7 linked regions of the Homo sapiens genome follow. The protein of the gene in region 6 purifies or fractionates together with the protein of the main gene of each other region. This does not show direct contact. Each region holds a gene or a part of one and is shown on either strand. Other genes may lie near its edges. The genes, in order: ANO6, AASS, TMEM177, HMGN3, LRRC8A, ACKR3 and ALG10B.

The links.
Region 1: the proteins of ACKR3 (region 6) and ANO6 purify together in Homo sapiens (co-immunoprecipitation; one large-scale study listed by IntAct). This does not show direct contact.
Region 2: the proteins of ACKR3 (region 6) and AASS purify together in Homo sapiens (co-immunoprecipitation; one large-scale study listed by IntAct). This does not show direct contact.
Region 3: the proteins of ACKR3 (region 6) and TMEM177 purify together in Homo sapiens (co-immunoprecipitation; one large-scale study listed by IntAct). This does not show direct contact.
Region 4: the proteins of ACKR3 (region 6) and HMGN3 purify together in Homo sapiens (co-immunoprecipitation; one large-scale study listed by IntAct). This does not show direct contact.
Region 5: the proteins of ACKR3 (region 6) and LRRC8A purify together in Homo sapiens (co-immunoprecipitation; one large-scale study listed by IntAct). This does not show direct contact.
Region 7: the proteins of ACKR3 (region 6) and ALG10B purify together in Homo sapiens (co-immunoprecipitation; one large-scale study listed by IntAct). This does not show direct contact.

The regions. Positions count from the first base shown.
Region 1 is NC_000012.12:45,404,595-45,408,094, reverse strand, and holds part of ANO6 (anoctamin-6), read right to left. Parts: intron 1-3,500. UniProt on the Homo sapiens protein: Small-conductance calcium-activated nonselective cation (SCAN) channel which acts as a regulator of phospholipid scrambling in platelets and osteoblasts.
Region 2 is NC_000007.14:122,095,750-122,099,249, forward strand, and holds part of AASS (alpha-aminoadipic semialdehyde synthase, mitochondrial), read right to left. Parts: intron 3,118-3,500; coding exon 2,996-3,117; intron 2,828-2,995; coding exon 2,701-2,827; intron 1-2,700. UniProt on the Homo sapiens protein: Bifunctional enzyme that catalyzes the first two steps in lysine degradation.
Region 3 is NC_000002.12:119,677,888-119,682,000, forward strand, and holds the start of TMEM177 (transmembrane protein 177), read left to right. Parts: upstream 1-1,313; 5' UTR 1,314-1,389; exon of another isoform or gene 1,390-1,730; intron 1,731-2,944; 5' UTR 2,945-2,966; coding exon 2,967-3,902; 3' UTR 3,903-4,113. UniProt on the Homo sapiens protein: Plays a role in the early steps of cytochrome c oxidase subunit II (MT-CO2/COX2) maturation and is required for the stabilization of COX20 and the newly synthesized MT-CO2/COX2 protein.
Region 4 is NC_000006.12:79,200,745-79,203,682, reverse strand, and holds the end of HMGN3 (high mobility group nucleosome-binding domain-containing protein 3), read left to right. Parts: intron 1-52; coding exon 53-103; intron 104-1,293; coding exon 1,294-1,407; coding exon of another isoform or gene 1,408-1,434; exon of another isoform or gene 1,435-1,527; coding exon 1,528-1,620; coding exon of another isoform or gene 1,621-1,659; exon of another isoform or gene 1,660-1,956; coding exon 1,957-1,995; 3' UTR 1,996-2,438; downstream 2,439-2,938. UniProt on the Homo sapiens protein: Binds to nucleosomes, regulating chromatin structure and consequently, chromatin-dependent processes such as transcription, DNA replication and DNA repair.
Region 5 is NC_000009.12:128,913,133-128,915,835, reverse strand, and holds part of LRRC8A (volume-regulated anion channel subunit LRRC8A), read right to left. Parts: exon of another isoform or gene 445-2,703; intron 1-444. UniProt on the Homo sapiens protein: Essential component of the volume-regulated anion channel (VRAC, also named VSOAC channel), an anion channel required to maintain a constant cell volume in response to extracellular or intracellular osmotic changes.
Region 6 is NC_000002.12:236,568,434-236,572,624, reverse strand, and holds the start of ACKR3 (atypical chemokine receptor 3), read right to left. Parts: upstream 2,801-4,191; 5' UTR 2,701-2,800; intron 1-2,700. UniProt on the Homo sapiens protein: Atypical chemokine receptor that controls chemokine levels and localization via high-affinity chemokine binding that is uncoupled from classic ligand-driven signal transduction cascades, resulting instead in chemokine sequestration, degradation, or transcytosis.
Region 7 is NC_000012.12:38,326,774-38,330,221, forward strand, and holds the end of ALG10B (dol-P-Glc:Glc(2)Man(9)GlcNAc(2)-PP-Dol alpha-1,2-glucosyltransferase), read left to right. Parts: 3' UTR 1-2,948; downstream 2,949-3,448. UniProt on the Homo sapiens protein: Dol-P-Glc:Glc(2)Man(9)GlcNAc(2)-PP-Dol alpha-1,2-glucosyltransferase that operates in the biosynthetic pathway of dolichol-linked oligosaccharides, the glycan precursors employed in protein asparagine (N)-glycosylation.

The sequences.
Region 1 (3,500 bases), on a different chromosome or scaffold from region 6:
AAACGGCTCACTCTGCTGGGTTTCCCACTGCTATTGATCTCAGGGCTCACTTTTCACTGACTGCTACTGAAGCTTTACTCAGGGGAAATTATCTCTACTACAGGAGACGTCTCTGACCTCACAATCTTTCCCCACTTCTTTCTTTTTGATGATGTTAGAGAGGCAGCAGGAGGCTGTGGAAAGTGGATGGGATATGAGTTCAGACACCCCTGAATCTGAATCCACACTCTATTTCTTAGCTGGTTAACTTTGGTAAAAAAATAAAACGGGGTGATAAAACCTACATTGCCCAGGGCTGCTGTCAGGATTAAATGATTCAAAATAGGTAACGGATGTAGCACGTTTCCTAACACATCAAAACCTGCTGAATGGGATTTTCTGTTGAGCAATACAGGCTGCACTGGCTGAGGCCAAGTGTAAATATGGCCTATATTACGTAGACTCTTGGCTCAGTTATCCAGGCCACCTGGATCAGTGGTTCCCACTTCAGCACATACAAGCATGACATGGAATGCTTGTGAGTAGTGCAGCTTCCTGTGCTCCCAACTAAAAGGTCTGAGATAAGCTCCAGAATCTGCAGTTTTGCAGTCATTCCGGGGGGGGGGGGGGGGGTGACTCAGGTAGCACCAAGGACCACACATGTCCATCACCCTTCATGACACCGAACTCTAAGGTCACTGGGTGTGGTTTCTATTTGTTTATACTTTGCTTTGCCTCCCAAACTTCTAGCCTCCGCCTCTTGCTGAATCCTTTCCATGCCCTCAGAGAAGCAGGTCTTTTTCTGTCTGGGCTCTAAATCACATCAAAGCTCAGATTCAGGATGAAACTTCTGTCCTGGCAACTACTTGTGTCAGCTGGCGCTTCCGTCTCATATCAGGTCATCTTAGAAGTCTTTCTTACTAGCTTTCATTTCTGAGTTACAGATGCTGAGCCTCTTGTTTGGTTTTCCTGAGTTGAACCACTCATGTTTGGGTTTTCTATTGGTCTGTGTTTCTAGTGCAGGGAGCTCAATCTTGACTTCACATGAGAATCACCCACAGAACTTTTAGAAAAATATACACACCAGATACGTTTTCCCTGGCCAAGGCTAGAAGCAGGGGTTACAAAATAATTTCCATAGGAATTTACCATGTGTATTGTCATAGCCACATCATAAGTTATGCTTTACTAGGTCCTTATTTTGTACAAAACATGGTGAGAAGCACTTTACATCTCACTTCCTCTTCAACTCCATTATCACATTTAATCCACATAATGGAGATGATCATCATTTCTGTTTAGGACGTTCTACAGTATTCCCACTTGCTAATTTTGAAATACAAGCATCCTTCACTATCTGAATCTATTTTATGTGTCAGTTTACTGTTTCTGAACCTAGAGAGTAAGTGTGGATAGTGAGGGACACCTATATTTAGGACTCTGATTGCCTATAGCTCATCTTCTCTCCAAATCCTATCCTGAGAAGGGACATTTTCTCCTAAAACAGTTCTTTTTTCTTATTATATAAATAAGTATACTTATTTATATAAGAAGAGGCGTTTATGTTACAATATACATGTATAAATGTATATAAAGGAAAATTATAGCTATCTACTAAATACCAAACAATTGATACTACAGACATTTTGGATCCTTAATTCTATTATCTCTGACATTTTGTTATAAAAATTTCTCCAGAGTGAGTTAACACAGGAATTATACTAGCCTTTTATTAAGAACAGAATAAAATCCCCAGGAATACCTTAAATATCAAAACACTAAGGTGGAGCTGGGAAGGCCAAAGGGCTCTGAGCTTGCTCTCCGGGTCTCACTGACAACTCTGTAATTTACTGATGTGATGTATCTGAAGCATACAAGGCACTTATTCATTCACTCAGCTGCTTCATACTGAGTCCCTGTCATATGCCAGGTACTGGGGAGGCCCCAAAAGGAACCTGGATCCCTGAGCCAGATATGCTCCTTTCCTTGTTGCAAGAATCCTAGTCAAGGGGTATGGGCCCAAAGGCGGGAGAGGAAGGAAGGAAGAGGAGGGTACATGTGTGGTGAAACATTTCTCCATGTTTCTCTTGACACACTTACACGATGTGAAAACAACTGCTGACTTATAAGGCTTTTCTCTATCTATTTTTGGGGGGTGGGTATAGTTTTGGATAGAAAGGATAACTGATATATCTTTTTTTTTTCTTCGAGATGGAGTTTCGCTCTTGTTGCCTAGGCTGGAGTGCAATGGTGCGATCTCGGCTCACTGCAACCTCCGCCTCCAGGTTCAAGCAATTCTCCTGCCTCAGCCTCCTGAGTAGCTGGGATTACAGGCATGCACCAAATGTCTGGCTAATTTTGTATTTTCAGTAGAGATGGGGTTTCTCCATGTTGGTCAGGCTGGTCTCGAACTCCCGACCTCAGGTGATCTGACCACCTTGGCCTCCCAAAGTGCTGGGATTACCAGTGTGAACCACAGCACCTGGCTGATATATCTTTGATAAATTAGGACTTTGTATAAAAAAGTTAAGAAAACTGGCACCTACACAAAGAGAAGCAGCACCAGTCACTCTCTAATTTGGCTAACACTCAGCATTCTCAGTTTTCAAACAAGAAAACATAGGGGGAGAAATTTGAAGGCAAAGTTCATATCACTGTAATTTTCAACAATGAGCTTACTTGAAGTGAAAGTATAAACCACGGATAGTATAATTCATCCTTTAAAATATTTCATGTGAACAAATTTCATTTCATATGAATTTCTCAATTCCAGTTTAGGAAATAGCTGCTAAAAACCAATGTTACCGAAACATAGTGTTAAATAATTAACCTACTTTTTTCAGAAAACCCTTTTTAATCTCAGAATGGATTAAGACTTTCCTCAATTTTATATATTTGTTTTCATCTAGAAACACAGTACTATTTATGCATGACCTACTTTTACTTATCTGGAAAAATCTGAATATGAGCTCAATGAAAGTGAGGGTTGTTTTCTCCGGAGTAGGATAAAAAAAAAAAAAGAATTTCACAGCTAAAGCCAGAATCCCTTTCTGGGTGGGGGAAGAGGAAGGAGAGAGATCTTTGTTTAGAGAAAGACCCTGACAGTTTCCATTGAAGATGGAGAATAAGACCTGTTAAAGAAATCTGGAAGGAGGCACTGAAACCCGGAGTGAGTTAACTGCTCAATAAAGAGAATGAACAGAAACTTGGTGACTGGGGAGAAAAAAGCCAGGAGTAGGAGAAGAAAGGAGAGAGAAGTTGTATGTGATGGAGGCAAGAGGGCAACATGGCAGGAGGCGAGAGCCTGTAAAGAAGGGTGATAAATTTTAAAAAATTCCCAGCTATATAGTGGGATAAAAGACTTTTTATAAAGGTAGAGGTTTTTTATTTCTAAACAAGGGAAGAGGTGGTGGGGGAGATGAGAGGAGGAGGACAGGGGGAAGAAGACAGAAGGCGGGAGAGGTGACTACAGAAGATAGTCACAAACACGAAACTTTGCTGGCTTTAAGATGGAGAAGAGG
Region 2 (3,500 bases), on a different chromosome or scaffold from region 6:
TAATTACTGCTAACAAATTTAGTAGACTTTTGGAAACCACTGAGCAAAATACTCGCAAAACTATTAGAACCAAATATTAATAGAAAATGTGCAATGTCATCATCTTAAAGGTTAAACAGAAATTTTTAAATCACATTCTCCATATTAAACTTGCTCAATCAAAATTTTACTAAGATCTAATAATATTTTAAAACTTTGGCCTTATAATAGGCTGAGAAGTAGAATGATAGGACTTTGCCTGTGGTACTTTTTTAGACGAAGGGATTAGAGTTCATAATTCGTCTCGAATATGATACAGTAAGCACTCAATGGGACATACTCTTAAATTATTTAAGTTGACTCCAACCCAATTACTCCAAAAGGTCGAAAATGTCACTTGTGAAAAATACACACAAAATACATGTGGAATTTTCAAAGAAACTTGAAATCAATTACTACTTTGTATTAAATTAAAAACTAAATTTGAAAAATTATAACTATGAGAATTGTACATATTACTAAACATTTTTTGTGAAACATATTCTTTACTCATTTTTTTGTAGTCCCTATCACTGTGGTTATATCAAAACATTCTTTCCCCAACTTAAAAAATAAAACAATTAGCCAGGCATGGTGGCTTATGCCTGTAATCCTGACACTTTGAGAGGCTGAGGCAAGTAGATTGCTTGAGGAGTTCAAGACCAGCCTGAGCAACATGGTGATATCCCATTGCTACTAAAAATACAAACTTTAGCTAGGCATAGTGGCAAGTGCCTGTAGTCCCAGCTACTTGGGTGGTTGAGGTGGGAGGATCACTTGAGTCTGGGAGGTGAAGGTTGCAGTGAGCCAAGATTGTGCCACTGCATTCCAGCCTGGGTGACAAAATGAGACTGTCTCAAAAAAAAGAAAAAAAAAATTTAAGGAATGTTATAGGATAACATTGTTTAATGGCATTACCATTATTCAGCATAGAAAATACACCAAATGAGAAAACATTAAATATAAAACAGTTTTTGCTAATGCTAAATCCTATTGAAGGCCACTAGTTTGCTAAATTTTAAAATTTGGACATATTAAGAGATTGATGTCTTTGTCCATTATCTTGTCACATTTTATTTCAGATTCTGTTCCAAATGGATTTTATCATGTTATTTTACTTTTAATTAAAAATGATATATTTAGATACCTCTGTGTGGCAAAATAAATTATTGTTCTACTCAGAAGGCTAGATCATTCTATTTTGAATCAGAATTTCTTTTCATGGTAATATCAGAGAGGTTCAGTTGGTCATTAGTCAATTTTTTCTAAATAAAAATTAACGCTCATAACATTTATATAAATTGAGTAACATTTTAAGTGCATAAAGTTAGCCTGTATTTAAAGATATCAAGAGAAATGTAAAAATGCCAGCCTACAGAACTACCTTTCATTATATGTTTTCCAAGCCTGCTTTTTTTTTTTTAAAGCAGAACATCACAGAACTTCCTCCAAAGATACAATTTGAATCTGATCTGTGAAAGTGACTAGGTAATCACTATGAGGGAACAGATAACTTTCTTCTTCTCATCTTGGGAAAATTCTAGGAATGAATGACTATTTTCATCACTTTGACATTTCAAAACCAAATTTATTTATTTATTTATTTATTACTTTTATTTTAGGTTCAGGGGTACATGTGCAGGTTTGTTATACAGGTAAATTGTATGTTATGGGGGTATGGTGTACAGATTATTTCATTATCTAGGTAATAAGCATAGTACCCAATGGGTAGTTTTTCGATCCTCACCCTCCTCCCACCTTTTACCCTTAAGCAGGCCCTGATGTCTGTTGTTCCTTTCTTTGTGTACATATGTACTCAAATATCAAAACCAAATTTAGTTATAAAGTGAATCTCATGTAATTCTGTGTCTAGATGTTAGATCTGCATTTTTGTTAGTAATACTCTATTTCAGGATCTGTTGCTATGATGAGACTTAAAATGGTCATAAGGCTAAATAATCTACTTATTCCATTTAAGCTTTATAACTCCAAAGGATAAAATAGACACTTAAGTATATAAAACATTAATACCTTATGACCTGCAATCCCACTTCTAAGTACATACCCAACAGAAATGTATAATTACTGTTTTAGTGAAATGGTCACTAAAAGACAAATACCGAAATGTGTATAGCAGTGTGACTTATAATAGCCAAAATCCAGAAACAACCTAAATATCTATAGTAGTCAAATAAATAATAATGGTATATTCACATAATGAAATACTATACAGCAATGAGAATGAATAAATTATCATTTCAGACAATAGCACAAATGACTCTTGTAATCACAACATTGAATGGAAGAAGGAAGCCACAAATGAGGATATATTGAATGATTCCAATTATATGAAGTCTGAAAGCAGGCAGAAACTAAATGTCAGAAGCCAGGATAGTGTTTACCCTTAGAGGATGGGGTAAGTGAATAGAAAGAGGCACCAGGAGGGCTTCTGGGGAATTACTGATACTCTTGTTTCCTGACATAAATAATCATCACAGAATGTGTTCACTTTGTGAAAATTCATTGAGCTATATACTTATGATTTGTGCACCTTCTGGACCCATACTTCAATTAAAAACTTTACTCCAAAGGAGTATGAAGAGAGGAGAAGTGAAAGAGAAAGAAAAATGAGAAAAGAAATAACAACAAAAATATGAAACTCATTTCTTGCCAGATACTGACCTGATGACAAGATCCTGTTTTGCCACCAAGAAGCCCAGCTTCTCTTCTTGTTTACAAATGTCCATGCTAACAGGATTAATATTATATTTCTTGCCTAACTGTTCAATTTGATTCTTCATGTCAGATCCTATTTCAGTAATTAAAAGTCACATTTTTAGATATGTCAGAGTAAAATATATTTTAACATCTCCAAAAATAAATTTTCAAATTTCAGAAACAAAGTAGTCTTCTAAAATGTAGAAGTCAACACGCTATAAAATACATTTTTCTTCTTCAAAAATTAGGGCTTATTTACCTACTGTTATTTCTATATTGCCATCTCTTGATAAATATTCTAATACAGGCTCAGATATGTAGCCAGATCCAAGAACCAAAACCTTTCTCCTGGTGCCCATTGAAAGTGACTGAGCACGTTCCCTATTTAAAAAAAAAAAAAAAAAAAAAAAAGGGAAGGGGCTAATTAAAAATTTTTTTTTAAATAACAGAATCTTGCATTCCACAAATCATACTAAAACCTAAATAATGAAGCAACATTTTCTCTTCACATTACTTAAAATAAGAATTTCAACATGAATGAGTTCCCTATAACAACATGTTTCTTTAATTATTTTACATTTTGTACAATGAAGAACAATAGACCTGACATCTCTGAGATATATATCTACAGACGTATAGATGTATTTCATGAATTCCCAGTATTACTAGTGAGGTGCAGATGCTGGACATTTTCTTGGCTTACTTGTGATTGAGTAACTTGGTCTCACATTTTATCCTTCCAGAAGATGTGGTTCAAAATCATA
Region 3 (4,113 bases), about 120 Mb from region 6:
TTGCCCTGTAGAATGTCCCACATTCTGGCTTTGGCTGAGGTCACATTGCACTATTTACATACAAACAACTGAGCAGCCAAAATTGGGGGGGGGGGCTCAGAAACAGAACAGACTTTAATAATAATAGCTAATGGCTAGGCGGCACAAACCGTGAGGCACAGGTTACATATACACCAACTCATTTTATCACACAGCTAGTAAGGGGTGGAGCCCGGCTTTAACCCTAGGCAGTCTGTTTTCACCCTCTGTAAAGGATTGGGCATGGCTGTGTTCCAAGAAAACTTTATTTACAAAAGCAGGTGGAGAGCTGGATTTGGTGCACAGATTAGATGATCCCTCATCTACCTCACAGAGCAGCTGGAAAGGAGAAATGACAGATGGCACGCTGCTCTGTGGACTGTACAGTGTGAAGCACCTGGGAGGAGCTTGGGGGGCAGCGAACATGGTAATAAACATAAAGCTCAGAGCTCCCCGCCAAGGGTGAGCGCTTCCAGACGGAGAAGTACACGGGCCGGCCAGTCAGATGGGCATGGGTTCTGATGGGGGCCCTGCCATAGGCCGCCTGGTGACCCACGCGGGGCTGCCGTTCCTTCGGGGGTTCAACGGCATGATCAAAGACACCGGGATGTGTGTGTGTGTGTGTGTGTGTGTGTGTGATGATCAAAGACACCGGGGTGGGTGTGTGTGTGTGTGTGTGTCATGATCAAAGACACCAGGGTATGTGTGTGTGTGTGTGTGTGTGTGGCATGATCAAAGACACCGGGGTGTGTGTGTGTGTGTGTGTGGCATGATCAAAGACACCGGGGTGTGTGTGTGTGTGTGTGTGTGTGACGGAGTCTCGCTCTGTCGCCCAGGTTGGAGTGCAGTGGCGTATTCTCGGCTCACTGCAACCTCTGCCTCCCAGGTTCAAGCGATTCTCCTGCCTCAGCCTCCCCAGCAGCTGGGGACTACAGGCGTGCGCCACCACGCCCAGCTAATTTTTGTATTAATCAAAGACGCATTTCAACGCAGAGGAGGAAGTGCTAGCGGACCCACCCCAAGGTGCACAGTTAGAGAAGGAGCCTCTGCGGCGGCCGGAGCCCCCCACGGACATCCCCTTGAGGCCCCCCCAGCCACACCCCCAAGAGTCCCGCCCCCAGACCCGTCGAGCGAGCTCCCCTCCCTGAAATCCTCGCCCCGAGATCTCCGGCCGGCGAGCTCCGCCCCCTGAAGTCCCCATCCCAAGATCCGGGGCCGGCGAGCTCCGCCTCCCGAAGTCCCCGCCCCCAGATCCCCGGCCGGCGTGCTTTGCGGCCGCCCTGCCGCGCGCACATGTAGGCGTTCCGAGCGGCGGCGGAGGTGAGCGCACGGACGAGCGGGAGGGACCCTTCTCCGGCCTGATGCGACCCGGTAACGCGTTCAGACTGCGGAGTAGCCTAGGGGCCCAGAGTGGAAGCGTAGCGAGGACCCCTCTGCGGGGCTCCTGCAGCCCCTCCTCCCCCAGCCACCGGCGGGCTGCATGGTACTGTGTTCTAGGCCCACCCCGCAGCGCGATGGCCCTAGGGACGTTGGACTTTGGTCCAGACCTTTCCTTTCTTAGCCTCACTTTCCGCATTGGGAAAAAAAAAAAGCCCGAATGATAATGATTCTTATAGGAGTTCTTGATTAAGATAGGCCAAGCGGTACCCTGCGTTTTTGTTTGCGGCAACTCATTCGTTGCTCATTAAGCACTTTTCACGGACAGGAATACAGTAAGTTTCAATCAAAGTGAAATAATTGTGAATTTTTACTGACGTATTCACGGATGAAGTGATAGGATGCCCGGGGATGTTTCAAAATAAACCAGTTGGACGGAAGTGTGGTGGAAAGAGAAATCAAACAAGATTGGCCATGAGTTGATGGGATTGAAGTTGATGGATGTACTATTTTGTCTACTTTGGTATATGCTTGTAATTTGGCATAACAAGTTTTCTAAAACAAAAAGTTTGCTGTGGACACCTGACTATGCCTGTGTTAGCTTGCTAGAGCTGCCATGCCGAAGTACCGGAGACTGGGTGGCCCAACCAGCAGAAATTTGTCCTCTGGGAGTTATGGAGGCTGGAAGTTCAAGACCAGGGTGTTAACAGGGTTGGTGTCTTCTGAGACCTCCCTTCTTGGCTTGTAGGTGGTAGCCTTTTCCCTGGATCCTCACATGATCTTCCTGCTGTGCCTGTTTGCATCCTAATCTCTTCTTATAAGTACACCAGTCAAATTGGATTAGGATCCATACTGATGGCCTCATTTTATCTTAATTATCTCCTTAAAGACCCTGTCTCCAAATACAGCCACAGTCTGAGGTACTGGGGGTTAGGACTTAAATATATGAACTGGGGAGGAGGAGGAGACACAGTGCAGCCCATAACACTGTCACTTCACTAGCTTAGGATTTTGGCCATTTAAGTTTTCACAGCTTTGAAATAGGGTTAGCTGTAGTAATTAGGTCATGGGGTTGTGAGGGTTCAATCGGTAAGAGTGCTCAGAACTGAGTCTAGCATATAGTAAGCACTCAATAAATTGAACACGTTTTTCCTTATAAATTAGTAATCATAGGGCTTTACCATGGGATGAGTGGAATGAGGCAGTTGGAGTGCCGTGCCCAGCGATGGGAATAAAAGTCATTACAGCCATTATTATAAGGAATATCTGCTGCTGTGCCAGACACTAAATGTTTTATGTATGTTTATTCATGTGCTCATCACCGCCACCCTAGAGGTGGGCCATTACGACACACCTGTTTGGCACATGGGGAAATTGACGCACAGAGACGGAGCTGGGATTTGAACACAGGCACTCTGGCTCTAGAGCCCACACTCTTCACCACTATGCTGTGTTACTTTGGTTTAAAAAGGTGGTGTGGACCCTGGAGGATGTTCAGTCTGCAGGCTGACCCAGGGAAACTGGCTGACTTCTCTTTTTCTTGGCCCAGATTGTCCGCAGTGACTACACTCATGGCAGGTCCCCTGTGGCGGACCGCAGCATTTGTGCAGAGACACAGGACAGGCCTCTTGGTGGGTTCCTGTGCAGGCCTGTTTGGAGTTCCAATCTCGTACCACCTCTTCCCGGATCCCGTGGTCCAATGGCTCTACCAGTACTGGCCTCAGGGCCAGCCAGCTCCGCTCCCTCCACAGCTGCAGAGCCTCTTCCAAGAGGTGCTACAGGACATAGGTGTTCCTTCAGGCCATTGCTACAAGCCCTTCACCACCTTCACCTTCCAACCTGTGAGTGCAGGCTTCCCAAGACTCCCTGCTGGGGCTGTGGTGGGCATCCCTGCCAGTTTCTTGGGAGACCTAGTGATCAACACTAACCATCCCGTGGTCATACATGGGCATACAGTGGACTGGCGGAGCCCAGCAGGCGCCCGGCTGAGAGCTTCCCTGACCTTGTCCCGTGAAGCCCAGAAGTTCGCCTTGGCCAGGGAAGTGGTGTACCTGGAAAGCAGTACCACTGCCGTGCACGCCCTGCTGGCCCCAGCTTGCCTGGCAGGGACCTGGGCACTGGGCGTGGGTGCCAAGTACACCCTGGGGCTCCATGCAGGCCCCATGAATTTACGGGCTGCCTTCAGCTTGGTGGCAGCAGTGGCAGGCTTTGTGGCCTACGCCTTCTCCCAGGATTCTCTCACTCATGCCGTGGAGTCCTGGCTGGACCGCCGCACGGCCTCCCTCTCTGCAGCCTATGCCTGTGGTGGAGTGGAGTTCTATGAGAAGCTTCTGTCGGGCAACCTGGCCCTGCGCAGTCTCTTGGGCAAAGACGGGGAGAAGCTGTATACACCCAGCGGGAACATCGTCCCCAGACACTTGTTCCGAATCAAACATTTACCCTACACCACCCGCCGGGACTCTGTGCTGCAGATGTGGAGGGGGATGCTCAATCCGGGCCGCTCCTGATGGGCTCATCACAAGGACACTTCCAGCTTGTGCAGACACCACCCTGCCATTGAGTCTGGAGGGCCCTGTTGGAGCCTTTGGACCTATAGCTCACGGCCAGAAAAATCACTGGCTTTGGAATTAAATAGCTTAGATTGTACTATAACCACTACTTATGAACTCAGGGACTATGAGGGACTATTCAGGGGCTATGAATCTGAGCCTTTGTTTC
Region 4 (2,938 bases), on a different chromosome or scaffold from region 6:
TGATAGTTTTTTTTTTTTTTCAGTATTTGTGTAATTTAAATTATCTTTGCAGAAACCTGCTCCACCAAAACCTGAACCCAAACCAAGAAAAACATCTGCTAAGGTAAGAAGTGCTGTTTCCCACTTTTGGCTTTTTAAACAATGAATAAATTATAATTCCCTACCTCAGAATCATTCAAAGAAAGGCCGTATTTAATGATCCAAACTGAAACCATTACCACTGTTACGGGCTTGCTTAAAGGCATAAAGCACAGTTTTCTGCGTTAATAGGAGTGTGTTTTCCATTTGGTCAGTGAGGCACGGGAAGTCAGAGATGTTGCTCTGAGAAGCCTCATGTCCGAAGGGGGTTTGGCAGCAGCCTCGTGAACATGCGGTTCATGCGGCACACAGCGGGGATGAGTTTGGGCCCTGGCAGCACTGCCCCACTATGGGAGGAATTTGGGAAGGGGCTTCTGACTTCATCTAACTGGATTTCGCAGGCCAGTCTGAGGTCTAATAATAATAATATAATAATGCCAGCAGGTAATATTGGCATTTATAAGGCCCTTATAGTATGGCAGATAAGGTTGATTGCTTTACTCATATGACCTTCACATCAACTCTGTTGAAGTAGATACAAATATCCTGTTTTGCAGATGAGGAAACTGAGGTACAGAATTCTTAGGGAACTTACCCAAAATGGCTTTTCTGCACTCTGCCCTTTGGTATTGTCCCATGTGAATTGTTTAAAACTTATGTGTATAGTGGCATGAGTAGGTGATTTCAGAAACAGAACTCACTTTTGTTGTTTGGTCTTAAAATTAGGAACTTTTCTTCATCTGGGCTTCATTTCCCTGCACCTTCCCAGCTTTCTAGTCATGCAAGCCACATGTCTCCACGTGAGGGGTTCATTGGAAAGCAGCCACAGAGCCACCCCCTGGCTGGGTTCTTCCCCAGCTCTGCTTCCTCCTTCCCCAAGTCCTGCAGCTGCTCTCTCCATGGCAGAACCACTTCTCCCCTTACTGGAGGGGAGGTCCACTGAACAAATCCAGGAGAGGAATCATTGTGTTTTCCACAGAAGAGAAAGTACACTGGACTTTCTGTGCAACCTGTTACTACATTTTCACAGAGACTCATATTTGTGCAGTGTAACTCAGTTGAAACCCAGCAAAATTAGGCTCCCGTGTCTCCATAAAGGCCACCATGATGGTAACGGTTGTACTTCACCTTGTGTTTGGACAGAGGCTGATTGATTTTAGCCATCATCACACCGTGTCTAACATTCTCTTTCACTGTGCTTTGATCCTCTGTTAGAAAGAACCTGGAGCAAAGATTAGCAGAGGTGCTAAAGGGAAGAAGGAGGAAAAGCAGGAAGCTGGAAAGGAAGGTACTGCACCATCTGAAAATGGTGAAACTAAAGCTGAAGAGGTACTTTCCATAAATACCTCCCACTGATTGAATCAGTGTCTTTAAAGAAATTTCTCAATCCTTCAGCCGGTGATAGCACGTTCTTAATGTCTCTTTTTATTGCCTGTAATGTTATTGCAGATCCACATCTCTCGCTCAACTGTTAATGTCTCAACCTCCAGAGGCACCCCACCCAGCACACTGTCAGTAAAGGGGCAGATTGAAACAGTGAGAGTTAAGGGTACAGTAGAAAATTCTGCATGTTTGCAGTGACTAGAATCAGATAGTAGTGTGGTGGTTTTTTTTTTTAATCATTATGAAGAGTGGGAGCTTGCAGGTAAGGCTTCTGTGGTGGTTTGAAAAGCAGAAAGCAATAAATGAAACAAAGTGTTTGTGTAATATATTCCTGCCTTGTCTTCTTCACTCAGAGTTGAAATAGGTTTTGCAGTAAAGCTGGAAAAAAAAAAGAAAACAAATGTTCAAAACTGTGTGTGTTGGTGGGTGGAATTTCCTTTGCTTATAGTAGTTTCAGTAGTAACTATATGTTTTTTTTTCCTTTCTTTTTCACAGGCACAGAAAACTGAATCTGTAGATAACGAGGGAGAATGAATTGTCATGAAAAATTGGGGTTGATTTTATGTATCTCTTGGGACAACTTTTAAAAGCTATTTTTACCAAGTATTTTGTAAATGCTAATTTTTTAGGACTCTACTAGTTGGCATACGAAAATATATAAGGATGGACATTTTATCGTCTCATAGTCATGCTTTTTGGAAATTTACATCATCCTCAAGTAAAATAAATATCAGTTAAATATTGGAAGCTGTGTGTAAGATTGATTCAGCATTCCATGCACTTGCTTTAAAATTTAGTCCTGTGCATACTGTGGTGTTTTTACTGTGCATATTTGAATTTTTCATGCAGTTTTTCTAGAGCAATAATCAGTGGTGCTTTTGTACCTAGGTTTTATGTGATTTTAATGAAACATGGATAGTTGTGGCCACCTGCTGACTATTTGTGGTTTAAAATAAAAGGTTTACTTGTCTGCAGAATACCTGACTCTTAGTATCTTTACTGCATTTTGGGAGTGTTTCATTTTATTGTTGCAGAAGATATAAAGAATTTTGATAGACCTTGCCATAGCGGTATCTCCAATAAGTCAAATAAGATTGTTTCTTAATTTTCTGGCCTTTAACATTGTTACTATTTTAATAAAATCATCTATGAATGCTAATGTAGAAGAATTACATCTAATTCACTTTATACCAGAAGTGGCCAGCAATGATTACTGTATAATAAAACTTTATAAAGCACTAATTTTTAAAAATCCTTATAAATAGGATATAGTGCTGCTAAATCAAAGCTAGTAAAAAAAAAAAAAAAAAAAAAAAAAAAAAAAAAACATAAACTAAGGCTCAACTTTGAAAATCTCCCACTTTTGAAATGATAAATACTAAGTCACATTTGTACAAAATCCTTCGCATTCAGTTGAGAACTTCACAGCTTTGAAAGTGCTTTACCCAACATGAGCATGTTTCAGCCTTGCATCAGT
Region 5 (2,703 bases), on a different chromosome or scaffold from region 6:
ATCTGTTACCCCCTTGATGTGGGCTCTAAGGATGAGACCTGCCTGCCTCGATCCCCACTATCTTCCAGCACCTGGCCCTGGGAAGTATATCGCATTGGCCAGCTGCTCCCACCTCCATCCCAGGGCTCACCAGGAGCCAGGCTGTTGGTTCTGCCCAGCTTAACAACAATTTATGAAAGCAAAACAGCATGCTGAGAAAATCCACCCCCTAGGCCGGGTGCGGTGGCTCACGCCTGTAATCCCAGCACTTTGGGAGGCTGAGGCGGGCGGATCACGAGGTCAGGAGATCGAGACTATCCTGGCTAACACGGTGAAACCCCGTCTCTACTAAAAATACAAAAAAATTAGCCGGGCATGGTGCCGGGCGCCTGTAGTCCCAGCTACTCGGGAGGCTGAGGCAGGAGAATGGCGTGAACCCGGGAGGCGGAGCTTGCAGAGCCGACATCGCGCCACTGCACTCCAGCCTGGGTGACAGAGTGAGACTCCATCTCAAAAAAATAATAATAGCCTCAAAGCCTAAGTGTACTATGCTTAATTTATAAATTAAACTTTATCATAGGTACCTGTGAATAGCAACGAACAGAACATATAGGGTTCTGCACTACCTGCAGTGCCAGGCATCCACGGGGGACCTTGGACCACATTCCCTGAGGATATGGAGCAATTACTGTTAACAGACGACACCCGTATGCAGCTTAATGTGTGGCAGGCTCACTGTGAGCACTGATACTATTAATTTATTTAACCAGCAAACTACCTATAAATATTCTGTCAATACTCTTCCAATTTTACAGATGGGGTAACTGAGGCCCAAAGACGCTGACTTGTCCAGAGGTTCAGCTGGTAAGTGATGGAGCCAGGATTTGAACCCGGTTCAACAGCCCATGCTCTGGTGAACCGTCCACACTGTTAGCGGAGCAAGGAGCAAACAGGGGGCTGCAGTGGGTTCGTGCTGTCTCCTGGCACACAGGAAGAGCCTCACGTATGCCAGCTTCTTCCCTGCCCTGCTGCGAGGAATCAGCTGGGGCCATGAGTTCTTACTGCGTGTAAGTAAGGCCATGAGTTGAGCCTGCCCGTCCCGAGGCTGCCTCCTTCAGATGGGATGGGCAGGAGGGCAGGAGCCAGGAGCCCTGGGCCTTGATCCCAAGTGAGGATGATGGGGAGATGGCACAGCAGCCCTTCTGAGCTTGCTCTATCACCGCCCCCATTTTCCTGCCAAGGAGACTGAGGCCCAGAGAGATGACACGCCACTCGTCTGAGGTTGCAGCCTCTCCGAAAGGGTCAGGAGAGGATGTACGTCTTATTTCCTCCCACTCAGAGCCCATGCTGTATTTCCCTTCTGCCAAATATGGCACTCAGTTACAGGGTAACTCTGGAAGTCCCTCCCTCTCTGGGCCTCAGTTTCCCCATTTGTAAAAGGCACAGGTTGGACTAGAAACTGAGCTTGGACACTCTGTGGCTGAGGACCGTTTTGCAGACTCGGACCTCAACCTCACGGGCACCTGCTCTCTCCAGCCGCGTTTAGAGAAGGGCCCAGGAGTTCCTGGGGAGCAACGTGGCTTTCCCAGCAGGGAGATAAGCATGGCCAAGGCCCGGCAGAGTGCTTTTTCTTTTTTTTTGGGGGGCGGGGGCGGGGGACGGAGTCTCACTCTGTCACCCAGAGAGTGCAGTGGCGCAATCTTGGCTCACTGTAATCTCCACCTCCCAGGTTCAAGTGATTCTCCTGCCTTAGCCTCCCGAGTAGCTGGGATTACAGCCGCATACCACCATGCCCGGCTAATTTTTGTATTGTTTGCAGAGACGGGGTTTCATTATGTCGGCCAGGCTGGTCTTGAACTCCTGACCTCAGGTGATCTGCCCGCCTCGGCCTCCCAAAGTGTTGGGATTACAGGCGTGAGCCACCATGCCCAGCCCAGGCACAGGGGGTGCTTTCAAAAAGGCTCCTAACCTGTGTATCCTACACTGCCACCACTGTGACCAAGGATCAGGAATGCATTTGGGGTTGGCTTTGAGGTCAGCAGGGGCTGAAGGTCAGAGGGTAGACAGGAAGTGGGCTCTGGAGCACCCAGGGGCCAGAGCCTTCCCAGAAAGACCCCACTCCCACCCCGTGATCTCCTCTGCTGACACATGCAGTGGTCAGGGACAGTGGGAAAGCTCTGGACAGCGAGTGGCAGAGCTCGGGTCCATATGGAGCCTGGCTCTGGAGCCCCCTCCCTGAAAGGCCTCCTCCCCAGAACATGCCCTGCTCTGAGCCAGGGAGCCCTCTCCAGGCCCCAGAGAGAAAAGGGGAGGTACTCTCAGTTGCTCGGCTCCCACCACAGCCACACCCATCCTCTGGACCGATCCTTCTCTGCTGGATTGTCGGATTGTCGCCGGCCCGTGCCCTGGAGGCTTGAAGTTGGTTCCCAATCCCCCAATTGCACCCTCTCCTACCTCCCCAGAGACTTCAGTGGGTCCCCATCGGCACTGAAAGGCCTCAACTCGACCTGATCTTTGAAAAGGACAACTCTCTCAGGAGGCTTCCAGGGCCCCAGCGTTGTCCTTGGCTCTCTGGCCTTCCTGACCAACTGCAGGAAAGCCGCTGTCTCTCTCCTCACTCTGCCTCCATGACCCTGTCCACCCTTAACTCTCTGGCCAAAGTCACCAGTTCCTAATCCAGCCAACTCCCCAGGCCCCATGTGCCCCACGCTCTGGCCTCGCCCT
Region 6 (4,191 bases):
CAGTGGGAGGTCAGCCAGGCTAGGAGAGCCTCCTCACCCCCGCCCTAAGCCAGACACAATGGGGTTCCCAGGAGGACACTGTGCAAACTTAGGCTCTGCATATACAACTGAGGGAGGATGGCCACATATCTGTTATAGCAGGAAAAGCAAAAGATGCTTACTATCTGGCTGACCCAGACTTCAAAACGCAAAGTCCCCCACACTGCCCTGGGCTCGTTATCTGTCCCTTTGCCAACAGTGGTTCAAGGCCACCTGAGATAGTCTCGGCCCCCATCCACTTTTTCAGTGCCTGGAACAAAACACAGTCTGCTTCCAAAACTACCTGTGGCTCTTTAAAATTGTCACCATAAAATTATGCAATTCCCTGATCACTTTAATATTGAAGCAATAGTGTTTTGTTTTGTTTTTTTCAATTCCAAATTAGTCGATAAAAGCATCAAACATTCCCTGAAGGAAACCATCAAATATTCAAAATCAGGGCCACCGCCTGCACGCCTCCCTGTCCTGATCTGTCTATTTCTGGCTTGCTTTCTTTTATTTCAACAGAAAATACGTGTCCTGGAGCTTTGTCTTTTCCTTCCTGAACTTTAGTAACACTTGACATGACACGATCTTTAGTTTCTTCCTGAATTATGCCTACACACGTGCAATCCAATTGAAGGCGTTTTAATACTATTCTTGCTTCTAATAATAAAACTAAGTTATTTGATTGCCTGGTTTAAAGGTACAAATGCCTTCTGGCCCCAGATTCCCCTCATGTTCTACAAAATCACAAAAAAAAAATCTAAAGTTTTGCAATCTTTGAGGTCTTTTTCTTTCCCCTCGGTTACTCTTAAGGTTTATAAAGTGACTGCCCTTCAGCCTCAGGTTTGAGTGACTTCAACCAATTTCCCTCACGTCGACTTGAAAACAGGAGCTCTCGCCCTAAAATGATCACACAAAAAGCCACTGTTCCTGATTAAGCAGGGTTTTTTGTTTTGGGTTTTTTTTTTTTTTTTTTTTTTTTCATTCAGAAAGCCTATACTTGGCCTGTTCTGGGCCTGATTAGAAATCATAATACCTTCTCAACGCTTCAACGACTTGCTGTTAATACGGGGAAAACACACCCCCAAAGCCCTGCGTGTGTCGCACAGGCATGCTGCCTTGGCGATGCTTTATGGAACTTTTTTAAAACTACGTCTGCAATGTCTGCCCCTTAAAAGAGAAAAGCTGATGGGCAGCAAACTGCAGCCATTTCTCCATCTTCCTTCGCTTTCCCACCCCCATCCTGGGCAGCTTTCCCCTCCCCCCAATCTCCTGGAGGTTGTGGCATTAAGCTCTGCAGTTGTGTGCACATTCAAGTGTTTATGGCAGAGACTGGGGAAAAAAGAGCAAATTGTTTCCAAGCTAGAGCTCCCATGTGCAACTTTGCTTTAGAAAAGACTTTCCATCTGGGGAAAGCTCATATTCTGATGAAAGAAGGGCAAGCAGTTTATCCATTTAAAATCTATGGAAAGTTAAAGCACAGAAACCAGCAGCCTCCACTTTCTTTGCTAGGCGTGCCTAGCTGATGTCCACATTTTTCCTGGAATAAATAAAGGGACACTAAAAGCAGCATCTGCCTTTAAAAAAGAAAAGAACAAAGTTACCATGTTGAGACTTTGCAGACTGAAGTTTCAGGGGATGTCACTGCACCAAATACATTCAAAGGGCTGTAAACCATTTAAGGAGGCTCTCTCCCACTTTTGAAACACTAAGTAATCCTGTTGTGAGCAAAAGGAAAGAAAGAAAGAAAGAAAGAGGAAGAGAGAAAGAGAGACAGCCAGTCTGACTTTTACAACTTCTCATTCTCCCTGGAAGTTACAAGTCTTGGCTAACCACCCATCCCTGACCTCACTCCAAAGTTCTCTCAGTCACTCCTTGAATCTTTGCACATGCCAACAAAATTGAACAAAATCCACATTTTACCTGAAGAGTATATTTAAATTGCAAAATAGTAGATTTGTGTGTGTGCTTCCCCCAACCCCAATTGAAGTTGGACTTAACACCTTCTAAGAGAACAATACTCAAATTAGATTAGCAAGCGTGCCATCAAGAGAAGAGAAGACCGGGCTGTGTTTAACATTCACGTTTATAGCTTCCGGACTTACAGACTCTGGTAAATCCCCCAAAGTACTGAATTCAAATACATCTTGGACTCACAAAGATTCTCAGCAGTTTTCTGCTCCATTTAAGGATGCCTCTTAATAAAGTGTTCATCATTCTGGAATTACGTATTTACTGCCAATTTTATCTGTTTCCAAACTGATATACTAGAAGCAAAACAGGTAAACAGTGGGTGCCAAGCTAATCCCCATGCCAAATTGGTCAGGCAGAATGGATAGTCTGTGTTCTTGCAAAGTTCCCCTGCTTACTGGAGCTTAAATAGCCACACAGCAAATAAACACCAGATTCCTAAATACACATGGAAATTTCCTTCTGCAAGTGACTTAAGAAAACTGCCCTTTGCTTTCTGAAGAGAAAGGTGAAGCCCTCCGAATTAGCAAAAGCACTTTGCAATGCAGCTGCGTGCAGCCTGGGTTTTCAGAAACCAGACCCGCAGACTCAAAAGCACCCATCTGAGCGATTTTAAAGAAGGCCTTTGAAAAGACCACTTGGCTTAAGAGCAGAAGCCGTGCCTTCTTTCCGAGCAGAGCTGCTGCCCGAGCACCGTTTCCTTACCTCCGGGCTGGCTGGGCTGGCTGGGCTGGCTGGGCTCGCTCGCCTTCCTGGCTGTGCTGTGCGCTGGCTCCCTTAGTGCTGAGCACTTTGCAACAACTGTGAGCTCTGCTGGCTGCAGACTTGCATTATATACACTGCAGAAAGGAGCCTCTAGCCTCTAGATGGCAGCTTTGTAACCCACATCTCTCTCTCCCCCGTGCCACCCCCATCCCACAGGCAGACACACACACACACACACCCCCCTCTTGTAAACCTCACTAGTCTGTTGTTTCCTGCACAAGTGTACTCTTGGGAAACCCCAGCCTTCTTTCATTTGCAAAATCTGGTGAAGCCACAAAGTCCAAACCCCACGGGGGGAAAACGTCAGCCAAAGACAAACTGCAAAGAAACCCTAGTGCTTGGCAAAATCATCAAATATTTATCTGGTCTCAGGTATATCTTGAATAATCCCATTAACACCAAGAGCTCCTGTGAATGCCTCTTCGCTCTAGGGAGGACTTTGTTCCCAAGACAAATTACTCTGAACTTCTGAACTTCGATGTTGATTTACTAAGCCTGGGTTTTCCTTGTTAATTCCTCCAAAACAGAAGTAACAGTTTTGGTATGACCAATGAATCGATGCCACACCGTATATCCCCAAAGTGGAGAAAAGAGTCTTTATAATAGATTATACTTGAATACTTTTATTTGTAAAGGACTTTAAGTACAAAATCCTTGAGACTCTAATCAAGATAGTATTCTACAGTGTCTGCCCAGTGCCAGACACGCATTAGGAAGATAATAAATGCCTTTTGATAATGTCTTTTTCTGAGATGAGTCTGGCAAACACTTTACTACAATTATTGCAATCTACATTCTTATTTGGATGCGTATTGCTAAAGTTCCCCCCACGGAGGAATTCAACCTAAAAATGTGATCCAGGTGATACTCATCTCCAATGCCCCATTTACAAAAATCGTCCATAAGATAGGGACCCAAAGGCCACCCGCCAGCCCATCCCATGTGCAATGCTCTGGCTTTCGTATTGCTTTCTGATCTCCTGGAGTTCTTAAAGAGCGGCTCAAGTGGAGTGTATGAAGGCACCAGCTGTATTCACGCCTTCTCCAGAGCTAAAACTTTTCGAGATTCTTTTTATACTTCTACTAAAAATAACAGCAGACGCTCGGTCCCAGCGCTGAATCTGGGGGACTGGGAGGTCAAAGTCTCACGTGGCTAGAAAGTCTCCGTGTGGAGAAAGCCCTTAACGAAAGAAATATTTTGTTTAGCTAAAAGCTTCACATTTTTCTCCTGAACTGGCTGCCCAGCGGGAGGCGAGGTGCACACCTGCTCTCCGGGGGCCTCCGGAGGGGTCGCCCTGGGGCCGGCCTTTCCCAGCCCGAGCGCAGCGTCCCGCCACCGCCTCTGCAGGGCGGCGCAATCACTCTTCGTGTCACATCGGCACCAAGGACATCTCCAGGCTCCCCAGAGACGCTGGAAAGGAAAACTGCCAGC
Region 7 (3,448 bases), on a different chromosome or scaffold from region 6:
AAAATTATAATAAAAATAGAGATTGAGGACATATTTTTAACATATATCCATGAGTCAACACTAATATTTAATATTTGAGATTTGAAAAATTATTTCTAGGGTAAGAAATTCTGTCACAATATAATATCTCTATATTGTGCTTTTTTAAGAGATAAATTTTTGATGAATTTAATGTTAATTAAATTTTATCTCAGCCTATCACCATCAGACCAAAAGACAATACAGTATTTTTCTAACAAGGAAAAGAAAATACATATATATATATTTATATATACAAATATATACGTATTTATATATACAAATTTGTATATATGTAATGTATGTGTGTGTGTATACATATAATTTCTCCTTTTTTTTTTTTGTAAGAATTGAGACAGGGTGTCACTATGTTGTGTGGGCTGGTCTCAAAACACCTGCCTCAAGTGATCCTCCCACCTTGGCCTCCCAAAGTGCTAGGATTTACAATGAGCCACTGTGCCAGCTTCCAACAAGAAAAATATTAAATGTATTGGTTTTTCACAGTGAAACTTAATTCAGTTTAGTTGAACCATATATGTGTGTGTATGGCATATATAAGATGAAAAAAGGAGAAAAAGTAACAATAATAATGATGGTTGCCATCATTCATTGAACACCTATAATGTTTTAGGCATTATACTAGCTGATTTACAAATATTGTCTCATTTGATGCTACATTTATATTTCTATGAGGCAGATGTTGATTTCTCTTTGACTGCTGAAGAAACTGAAGGTCGGTCAGGTCAGGTGATTTGCCCAAAGTCCACACTGTCACTAAATGAACATAGATTGGTATGACTCCCAAGCCTGTGAGTTTTTGACCGTCATATTCTGCCTCACTATGAAAAGTTTTTTTTCAATTTTTTTTAAATCAAAAGAAGTAGTATATGGAGAGAGAGGTGAAAATCCATGTTTGCTCTCTGCAGTTTCCAAACCATTCATGACGTGTTATTTTTGTACTGGATATAGTCATTTTTTAAAATGCTACAAACTGTTCAAAAGAGCATGAACAACATGATAACTCCTTATAATTTTGTTGTAAGATAAATGACTAAAATTATGTGGGATATTTAATTTGGATAAGTGGAAATTCTATCACTTGATAAGCTCTCTTGAAGAATAATTATTTGAAAGATTGGACTTAATTCTGTATTGCCTGAAGTGTAAATCAGAGGTCAACAATTAGATTGCAAATCATGAAAAGCATAACTTCTAATTGTTTAGTCTTTTTAGGGAAACAAGCCCAGAAAAAAAGTAAGATTCTCATTCATTGGAGATAAGATTTCTATTTATCAAAGATACTACACAAGAGTTAGATAGCAAGTAGTTCAAATGTCTTTTAAAGGTATCTGACATCTTTAAAGCTCTGTAATTTTTAAATTCTAAATTTTGTTACAGCTAATTTTTAAAAATTAATTGCTAAGTCATGGTCAAGTATTTCTGATGACTTACATGCTGTCTTTGGTATATTTTAAGTTTCTAAACCAAAACTACTATTTGACTCTATTACACCCTGTTTTAGAAAAACATTTGAGTTATACAACTTACTAAAATGTATTTTAGCGGTGATGTTTTGGAGCACTGGTAATATAGTGTTTAACTTATTTTCTATTTTTTATCCCTCTATATTCGTGAAATTACTTCTATTTGAAAAGTTTTCCGCCAGTGATAAAAAAAGGCTGAGCACTATCTGTAAAAATTTTTAAGGTGTCCACTAGGTGGAGATATTGTGCTACATTTCCAAGTGTTGTAGTTAAACTTTTATTAGTCTGAATTAAACTCTTTTATAGTGTTTTATTGTTTTAAACCACAAAGATTTATAATCATTTATATCTATTTATCTAATGTTATTCAAATGTTTTCTGCGTTGTATGAAGCTAAGATAAATGTAAAAAAAACAAACAAAAAAAACCTCACTTTGTGTTTTGTAATCATTAGACGATTTAACCTAATATATCTTCCCATATGATATGATCTTTGCATATGGCATACTTCATTCATATGACATAGTTAGAATCTTTTCCCACAAACAATGAGTGATGATATCTCATTTGAAAACTCGTGTAACATTGTATCAGCCACTGTTATAAAGTGATTTACCCATGTTAGTCTCATAACAACTCTATGAGATCAGTACCGTACACATGGGGAAACTTAGTATAGAGAGGTGAAGTATTTTTTCCAAGATTACAAAATAACTGTCTGAGCTGGGATTCGTAACCAGGCAGCCTGACTCCAAAATCAATATTCTTAACTCTATTGTTATGATGGAGAAAGGCATGAAGTCTACCTTCAAATTCATGGCATTTTAGAAGGAAAAATTGTCGCAAGTAATGTGATTATACTTCCTAGTTTTATAGGTCAGAAAAATGAGGTCCACACTAATTTTGCCTCTTCCACAGGGAGATAGATTCTCATCTACCATTGTGTCTTTTGTTTCTGTTTTTGTCATGATACCTCAAATTGATATATGTTGTAATTATGAATTTAAGGAAGTAAAAAAATAACTCAGGGCTGGAGCCTTCAGCCATATTAACATACATTGACATAAAGACCTTTGTTTTAATATGAATGATTCCAGTTAACAAATGGAGAAATAGTTGTTTGAAAATTAATATTTAGCTTCTCAAAAGAGACTCCTGTTTGGAAGCAAATTGTTGGTTTAACAGGACATACTTTAGATATTTGAAAAATTCTCTGTGGAATCACAATCTCTTATTTTTAAGAATGTAGGAATATGTGTTCTATATGCTTTTAAGTTATGTATTACATACTATTCTCTAAAATAGAAATGTTTATTTGGCTTCTAAAAGTCATTTGTGAGTTGATGTTATTTAAAACTGCTTTTCAGTCAACTTATTCTTTATAAAAAAGTTTGTTCAAATAGCATGTTTTTATTTTGTTTCTAAATAAATTCATGTTTGATAATATTTTATAATGTGTTGTGTCTATTTTTTTTTTTTTTTTATTGATCATTCTTGGGTGTTTCTCGCAGAGGGGGATTTGGCAGGGTCATAGGACAATAGTGGAGGGAAGGTCAGCAGATAAACAAGTGAACACAGGTCTCTGGTTTTCCTAGGCAGAGGACCCTGGGGCCTTCCGCAGTGTTTGTGTCCTTGGGTACTTGAGATTAGGGAGTGGTGATGAGTCTTAAGGAGCATGCTGCCTTCAAGCATCTGTTTAACAAAGCACATCTTGCACCGCCCTTAATCCATTTAACCCTGAGTGGACACAGCACATGTTTCAGAGAGCACCGGGTTGGGGGTAAGGTCATAGATCAACAGCATCCCAAGGCAGAAGAATTTTTCTTAGTACAGAACAAAATGGAGTCCCCTATGTCTACTTCTTTCTACACAGACACAGCAACAATCTGATTTCTCTATCTTTTCCCCACATTTCCCCCTTTTCTATTCGACAAAACCGCCATCGT